Regions from separate parts of the Homo sapiens genome. Here all the other regions are linked to region 2. Evidence: fine-mapped expression QTL. A gene starts in region 2. Each other region holds a variant in brackets. All regions are shown on one strand. Distances are from middle to middle. Region 1 overlaps MMP12 (matrix metallopeptidase 12). Region 2 holds the start of MMP1 (matrix metallopeptidase 1). Region 3 holds the start of MMP3 (matrix metallopeptidase 3).

What was found. PIP is the estimated chance that this variant, and not a neighbour inherited with it, causes the effect.
Region 1: its variant is the best candidate, but not a certain one, in a credible set for the expression of MMP1 in gastroesophageal junction (GTEx, PIP 0.80).
Region 3: its variant is the best candidate, but not a certain one, in a credible set for the expression of MMP1 in whole blood (INTERVAL, PIP 0.68).

Annotation. Positions count from the first base shown.
Region 1 is chr11:102,870,781-102,873,546 of GRCh38, reverse strand. It overlaps MMP12 (matrix metallopeptidase 12), which reads left to right. Exons shown (of 10, transcript NM_002426.6): 2 at 435-682; 3 at 1,595-1,743; 4 at 1,828-1,953. Among named protein-coding and RNA genes, the nearest start is that of MMP12, 2.8 kb to the left of the region's middle. The variant G/A (reference allele first, on the strand shown) is at 1,326.
Region 2 is chr11:102,797,066-102,799,803 of GRCh38, reverse strand. MMP1 (matrix metallopeptidase 1) reads left to right here and starts at 1,644. Exons shown (of 10, transcript NM_002421.4): 1 at 1,644-1,816; 2 at 2,304-2,548; 3 at 2,642-2,738. The coding sequence starts at 1,712. It also overlaps the pseudogene WTAPP1.
Region 3 is chr11:102,841,488-102,844,253 of GRCh38, reverse strand. It overlaps MMP3 (matrix metallopeptidase 3), which reads left to right and starts at 645. Exons shown (of 10, transcript NM_002422.5): 1 at 645-812; 2 at 1,338-1,582; 3 at 1,675-1,823; 4 at 1,975-2,100. The coding sequence starts at 708. The variant A/TA (reference allele first, on the strand shown) is at 1,151.

The sequences.
Region 1 (2,766 bases), 74 kb before region 2:
CTCACTGCAGCTTCTACCTCCCAAGCTCAAGTGATCCTCTCACCTCAGCCTCCTGAGTAGCTGGGACTACAGGCATGCACCAACGCTCTGGGATAATTTTTGTGTTTTTTGTACAGAGGAGGTTTCGCCATGTTGTCCAGGCTAGTCTTGAACTCCTGGGCTCAAGAAATCCTCCTGCCTCAGCCTCCCGAAATGCTGGGATTACAGGCCTGAGCTACTGCTCCTGGCTGACATGTCTTTGATAGCACAAAAAATTAAGGTTTTTTTTCCTGATTATAATTAATTGTCCAAAAAACAATAATCTAACCTGTGAGTAAGATGTGCAAAATTCCTGGTCCAAAAGCATCAGTGTGCAATTGAGTCATATATGTGGAGCTCCCAACAGAAATTTTCTGTGTGTACTTACACATTGCTGAATGTATTTTTTTTTCCAGAGATACTTAGAAAAATTTTATGGCCTTGAGATAAACAAACTTCCAGTGACAAAAATGAAATATAGTGGAAACTTAATGAAGGAAAAAATCCAAGAAATGCAGCACTTCTTGGGTCTGAAAGTGACCGGGCAACTGGACACATCTACCCTGGAGATGATGCACGCACCTCGATGTGGAGTCCCCGATGTCCATCATTTCAGGGAAATGCCAGGGGGGCCCGTATGGAGGAAACATTATATCACCTACAGGTAACGTTGGTGTATGTCGCCCTGTATTTTTCTACTTTCCCATAGGTCTGACTTCTAACCTGAACCAGTTAGACAGCCCTAAATCTGGAAGTAGATAAAGTAACCTCCCTCCATTGTTAATGCTATCTCTGCTAAAATTCATTTTCTCTAGAAGGAAGAATTGTTCACTCAGGGGAGAATTGTTTGGCTTGCCAGTCCAAAGCAGATTTTAAAAGCTGCAAATAGGCCAGGCACGGTGGCTCACGCCTGTAATCCCAGCACTTTGGGAGGCCAAGGTGGGTGGATCACGAGGTCAGGAGATGGAGACCATCCTGGCCAACATGGTGAAACCTCGTCTTTACTAAACACACAAAAAAATTAGCTGGGCGTGGTGGCGCGCACCTGTAGTCCCAGCTACTCAGGAGGCTGAGGCAGGAGAATGGCGTGAACCCAGGAGGCGGAGCTTGCAGTGAGCCGAGATCGTGCCACTGCACTCCAGCCTAAGTAACAAAGTGAGACTCCATCTCAAAAAAAAAGAAAAAAAAATCTGCAAATAAAAGGAGAATGAAGCTAAATTTACTATAAATAAGATAATTTACTATAAAGAAGAGACAGGGAAGTTTATAGAGTAGTCAAGATGGATAAATGCAGAACCTGGGAGCAG[G/A]AGCAAAAAGCATAACCTTCTATGAAAGCAAATCCTTCACAGTGATGATCTGTGAGTTTTAAATAGGAAGAAATTAAGTTAGATTTTGGTTAAGGAGGAGGCTGTCCAAGAAAAAATGTTTCTGTAGTTAATGAAGCAAGTTTTAAAATCTGGACTCTTGATTTATGAAATGATCCATTTTCCAATTGTGCTAGCAAAAATGAAGTATTGTGGTAAGACAAAATAACACTGCCTTCCATACATTTTTCTCTCTCTTTTTGCTGATAAAGAATCAATAATTACACACCTGACATGAACCGTGAGGATGTTGACTACGCAATCCGGAAAGCTTTCCAAGTATGGAGTAATGTTACCCCCTTGAAATTCAGCAAGATTAACACAGGCATGGCTGACATTTTGGTGGTTTTTGCCCGTGGAGGTAGGGAACTTGTATTTCATCTTTGTCATTTGGCATGATCTATAGGATGTATAGAAGGACTAATTTTCTTTCCTTTTCCAAAAGCTCATGGAGACTTCCATGCTTTTGATGGCAAAGGTGGAATCCTAGCCCATGCTTTTGGACCTGGATCTGGCATTGGAGGGGATGCACATTTCGATGAGGACGAATTCTGGACTACACATTCAGGAGGTGGGCAAAACAAACAAACAAACAAACAAAAAACTAAGCAAACAGGAAAGGAAAACAACAAAAACCCTAACAAATTCAAAATTCTGGTTTCGAGAGACTACATTCTGACAAATGATTATATGATGGAAAATCTTGTTCTGATTATAATTTTGCCTCTAAATCAAATTTAACACTTCGTATGGGTCTCAATTTTACTCTCTGTAAATTGAGGATATTAAACTAGATCATCTTGAAGATCAGCTCTAACAATCTATGAGGATGCTATGAACTATGAGCTAGTTCATTAGCATAAGCTCAGAGGAACCTTAAGAAGCATAATATGAAAAGGTAAAAGCTGTTAATTAGGTGGTAAGTTTTTTTTTTTGAGACAAGGTCTTGCTCTGTCACTTAGGCTGGCATCACGTATCATGATGCTAACTTACTACAGCCCGGAACTCCTGTGCTCAAGCAAACCTCCCACTTCAACCTCCCTAGTAGCTAGGACCACAGGTGTGCGCTACCCACCCGGCTAATTTTTTAATTTTTTATAGGGACAGGATCTTGCTATGTTGCCTCGAGATCCTCCTGTCCCAGCCTCCCAAAGTGTTAAGATTGCAGGCAGCCTAGGTGATAAGTTTTTGACCTAGTGAAATCCATAAGCTCAAAAGCAAACACATACTAATTCTGTGTGTGCCAACAATTAGAGGATAAGATGGTCATCTGTATGATTCATAATATGCTGACAATTTCTTAGATTCATAGTGAGCAAGAAAGAAAAAGTTACAGAGAATCTAAGCATCCCTATAGAGAAACACAAGATTATACAGCCATGTA
Region 2 (2,738 bases):
CACTTAGATGAGGAAATTGTAGTTAAATAATTAGAAAGGATATGACTTATCTCAAATCAATCCAAGATATACTGAAGTATTGTTTATGAGTAAGATATCAGTCTTGACGCAGAAAGAAAACAGGAATCCATAAGGGGAGGAAAGTGTTGAAAAGCAAACCTGATACAGTGGGAAAGGTGGGAGACACCATAAGGTGCTGAAGTGATAAAACAGGCCAGTGTTTCTCCACTGTATGTTTTCAATAAATGCTTCCAAGGAAGGAGAGTGGGGCATGAGTAGGGGAGCTACAGAGATAAACCAACTTTTCTTACCAGGAATGCTACAGATAGCACTGGTGACACCGGTCACCAGTACCCAAGACAATTTAATGTGGAACATAAGTACAGGAATACACATCTTTCATTACAGAGCCATGTATTTATTTTAATGGGCAGGAGATGCTAAATAAGATCTTTTGAATGGAGGAATGCATAAATATATGAATGAATGCATACATGAAAGAATAAATAAATGCTGCCTAGCACCAAGGAGCGAAGATAGACTCATATCAAGGGAAACAAGTATGATTAAAAATAAGACCCCAGAGTCACGCTCAGTCTCTTTCCAGCCTTTTCATCATCCGGTACATTCAGACAAGTTTCAGGGAAGGATCCTATTTGTCCCATGATAATGATGGGCAAGGGGTGGGGAGTTATCTCATACTCCGCCTGTGGATGAGGGGTCTTCTCAGGTAAGGCTCTTAAATCCTAGGCCTGAGTAAATTTTTTCAAATTTTATTTTAGACAGGGTCCCTCTCTGTTGCCTAGGCTGGAGTGCAGCGGCACAATCACAGCTCAATGCAGCCTCAACCTCCCAGGCCCAAGTGATCCTCCCACCTCAGCCTCTTCAGTGACTAGGACTACAGGTGCATGACTCCATGCTTGGCTAACTTTAAAAAATGTTTGTTTGTTTGTTTGTTTTTTACAGAGATGGGGTCTCACCATGTTGCCCAGGCTGATCTTGAACTCCTGGGCTCAAGTGATTCCCCTGCCTCGGCCTCCTGAAATTCTGGGATTATAGGCTTGAGCCACCATGCCTGGCTCTGAGTAAAGATTAAGGGAAGCCATGGTGCTATCGCAATAGGGTACCAGGCAGCTTAACAAAGGCAGAAGGGAACCTCAGAGAACCCCGAAGAGCCACCGTAAAGTGAGTGCTGGGGGAGCTGAACTTCAGTCAGTACAGGTGCCGAACAGCCATCAGGTGCGCAGTGTTAGTAATTCCACCCTCTGCCCTGGGAGCAAGGTGTGTGGAGAAACCTGTAGCACTTTATGACCATCAGAACCAGTCTTTTTCAAAAAGACCATGGAGTACTCTTTGACCTGTGTATATAACAAGAACCTTTCTCAAATAGGAAAGAAATGAATTGGAGAAAACCACTGTTTACATGGCAGAGTGTGTCTCCTTCGCACACATCTTGTTTGAAGTTAATCATGACATTGCAACACCAAGTGATTCCAAATAATCTGCTAGGAGTCACCATTTCTAATGATTGCCTAGTCTATTCATAGCTAATCAAGAGGATGTTATAAAGCATGAGTCAGACAGCCTCTGGCTTTCTGGAAGGGCAAGGACTCTATATATACAGAGGGAGCTTCCTAGCTGGGATATTGGAGCAGCAAGAGGCTGGGAAGCCATCACTTACCTTGCACTGAGAAAGAAGACAAAGGCCAGTATGCACAGCTTTCCTCCACTGCTGCTGCTGCTGTTCTGGGGTGTGGTGTCTCACAGCTTCCCAGCGACTCTAGAAACACAAGAGCAAGATGTGGACTTAGTCCAGGTAAATGCTGCATTGCATGTGACAATAATGTAAATTTTTAGTTTGTATTTTTCTGCAGTAATGTAATAGAGTTTTTTAAGGATAGGTTTCTTATAAAGAGATTTTTTTTTTTTTTGCTAGAAACAGCACCCTCCACCCAAAATGTATCTAGCCATGCATACGCTCTCTTTTTCCAGTTGGAGGTGAGAGTGAACTAAAGGAACAACATCCAAACTTGTCTCCACAAATTGTAGACTTGTAACAGTATGCAAATCTTGCTCTACAAAAATTGCTCTACTATGAAGTTCTTACTTCACAATAACTAATAGTAGGGACATTTCTACTCTGAAATTTCATTTCTCACCAAAAATAAGGATAAAAGCAACTGCGAAATCTAAACACAAGGTTTAAAAGCAGTTCTCTGTTTTGGCTAAAACTTAATGCCATCAATTTTTAGAATAATGAGAAAGATTTCCCATGCAGTGTTTCGATAATTTTCTTTTGTCAGAAATACCTGGAAAAATACTACAACCTGAAGAATGATGGGAGGCAAGTTGAAAAGCGGAGAAATAGTGGCCCAGTGGTTGAAAAATTGAAGCAAATGCAGGAATTCTTTGGGCTGAAAGTGACTGGGAAACCAGATGCTGAAACCCTGAAGGTGATGAAGCAGCCCAGATGTGGAGTGCCTGATGTGGCTCAGTTTGTCCTCACTGAGGGGAACCCTCGCTGGGAGCAAACACATCTGACCTACAGGTAGGCAGACTGAGGGCCAGAGTGAGAGAGCTATTTCCCATGACAGTGGTAAGAAGTCATGTCCAATGTGTCTCTATTTTGTTTCATTCTAAGGATTGAAAATTACACGCCAGATTTGCCAAGAGCAGATGTGGACCATGCCATTGAGAAAGCCTTCCAACTCTGGAGTAATGTCACACCTCTGACATTC
Region 3 (2,766 bases), 44 kb before region 2:
TTAAAACCAACCCAAAGGGAATATACTTCCTTCTTTTTCACAGACCCTCTTTGTTCTATTCTGCCCATGAGGTTTTCCTCCTCAAGAACCAGCAAATCCAACGACAGTCAATAGCAGGCATTACAAATCAGATTCAGAAAAATAAATCACCCCTTCTAAATTTCTTCTAGATATTATCTTTTATGTTTTGAGTATAATTGTATATAGTATAGACTATAGCTATGTATGTACACTTTCCACTTACATCTTTTATTTGCTTTTATAATGTGTTTCTTAAAATAAAACTGCTTTTAGAAGTTCTGCACAATTCTGATTTTTACCAAGTCAACCTACTTCTTCTCTCAAAAGGACAAACATAAATTGTCTAGTGAATTCCAGTCAATTTTTCCAGAAGAAAAAAAATGCTCCAGTTTTCTCCTCTACCAAGACAGGAAGCACTTCCTGGAGATTAATCACTGTGTTGCCTTGCAAAATTGGGAAGGTTGAGAGAAATTAGTAAAGTAGGTTGTATCATCCTACTTTGAATTTGGAATGTTTGGAAATGGTCCTGCTGCCATTTGGATGAAAGCAAGGATGAGTCAAGCTGCGGGTGATCCAAACAAACACTGTCACTCTTTAAAAGCTGCGCTCCCGAGGTTGGACCTACAAGGAGGCAGGCAAGACAGCAAGGCATAGAGACAACATAGAGCTAAGTAAAGCCAGTGGAAATGAAGAGTCTTCCAATCCTACTGTTGCTGTGCGTGGCAGTTTGCTCAGCCTATCCATTGGATGGAGCTGCAAGGGGTGAGGACACCAGCATGAACCTTGTTCAGGTAATTAACACTAACTGACCTGGCCAGGTGGGGAGCTTCCAGAGTAAGCTGAAACCATTCTGTGTGTCTTAAAACCCACATAGAATGCTTGAGCTTACTGTGTAGGAACAGTTCAAGAATAGAGAGTTATAGAGTGTTGGAAGTGGAAAAGGTCTCATTATCACACCATTTGGGCTTCTCCTCTTATGTAGGAAGAAACAAAGGCCAGAAATATTAGGTGTTTTCTTAAGATCACACAACACCATAGCAGTAGCAGCACTGGGGCTTAAGGCACATGAGTAACAAGTGGAGAGTGGATGAACCATATCTTGCTTTGGAACAGCTTCAGTTTTTTTTTT[A/TA]ATGCAACGTAATTTTAGCTAAATATTTGTGTTGCTAGTATCATATTATAAAATTTGCCATTATTTCAGCAAGCTAGAGAAATACTCCAAATAGATTAAGAAGTGAGCAACTGCAAAAACTTACTATAAATAGATAGCTATAGTAAAAATTGTAAGAGTGACCTAAAAACTATACTTATTCTGTTAGAAATATCTAGAAAACTACTACGACCTCAAAAAAGATGTGAAACAGTTTGTTAGGAGAAAGGACAGTGGTCCTGTTGTTAAAAAAATCCGAGAAATGCAGAAGTTCCTTGGATTGGAGGTGACGGGGAAGCTGGACTCCGACACTCTGGAGGTGATGCGCAAGCCCAGGTGTGGAGTTCCTGATGTTGGTCACTTCAGAACCTTTCCTGGCATCCCGAAGTGGAGGAAAACCCACCTTACATACAGGTAATGGTTCAGAGGGGTTTTCACATAAGATTGGAATTTTATAAACTATATCATAGGAGAAAATAGCATCTGCTTCAATTTTTCTCCTACAGGATTGTGAATTATACACCAGATTTGCCAAAAGATGCTGTTGATTCTGCTGTTGAGAAAGCTCTGAAAGTCTGGGAAGAGGTGACTCCACTCACATTCTCCAGGCTGTATGAAGGAGAGGCTGATATAATGATCTCTTTTGCAGTTAGAGGTAAAAAAAAAAAAAAAAAAAAAAAAGCAAAACAAAACAAAACAAAAAACACATGAAATGTATCCATTCATCTATCTGGTGTTGTTGTACTGGAAAAGGCTCAAAAGGGATCCTTGTTACATATCTTTCCAATAAATTTTTTTCCTACTAGAACATGGAGACTTTTACCCTTTTGATGGACCTGGAAATGTTTTGGCCCATGCCTATGCCCCTGGGCCAGGGATTAATGGAGATGCCCACTTTGATGATGATGAACAATGGACAAAGGATACAACAGGTTAGTTACACATCTCTCAGAATGATTTTGGCATTAATTTTTTTATATGTAGAAATCTGTTAATAACCAAGAATGCTCAAGAAATGAGATGTTCTGGATTTTCCAGTGGATCAGAGATCAGCAGAATATATTTTTGTTTTAATTATTATTGAAAATATTTTCAGATGCTTTAACAGTTTTCCTATATTGGTAAGCACAATATAGGAAATATCATTAAGTATTTCTTTAATGACTGGATCTTTGTGATCTAGGGGTAACCATTATTAAGAAAAATTTCTCATATCAAAATACAAACATTCAAGGGATAGTATATTGCACTGAATCTACATTAAAATGTGCTCTGGATGTTACTTATGTAATTTCCTCCATTTACTTCTTTACTCTTCAAACCAGAAATAAGAATTAAATTTCAGAAACTGAGATTCTCTTTTTTTTTTTTTTCTGGCTGAGGCATTATTTTAGTACTTTTAGGTTAAAAGAATTTTTATGGGCTTGTTCTGAAGGAAAAGACTAACTCCCAAATACAACGTTCAAACTGTTTAGGTAGAAGAATGTTTCTCAGTTCATAACTGTATGTTTTGGGGAATGACATCCAAAGTTTTCAAAAAAATCAGCTAAAACAATTAACACTACTTCTAAAAAAATAGGAAAACAATTAATACTATG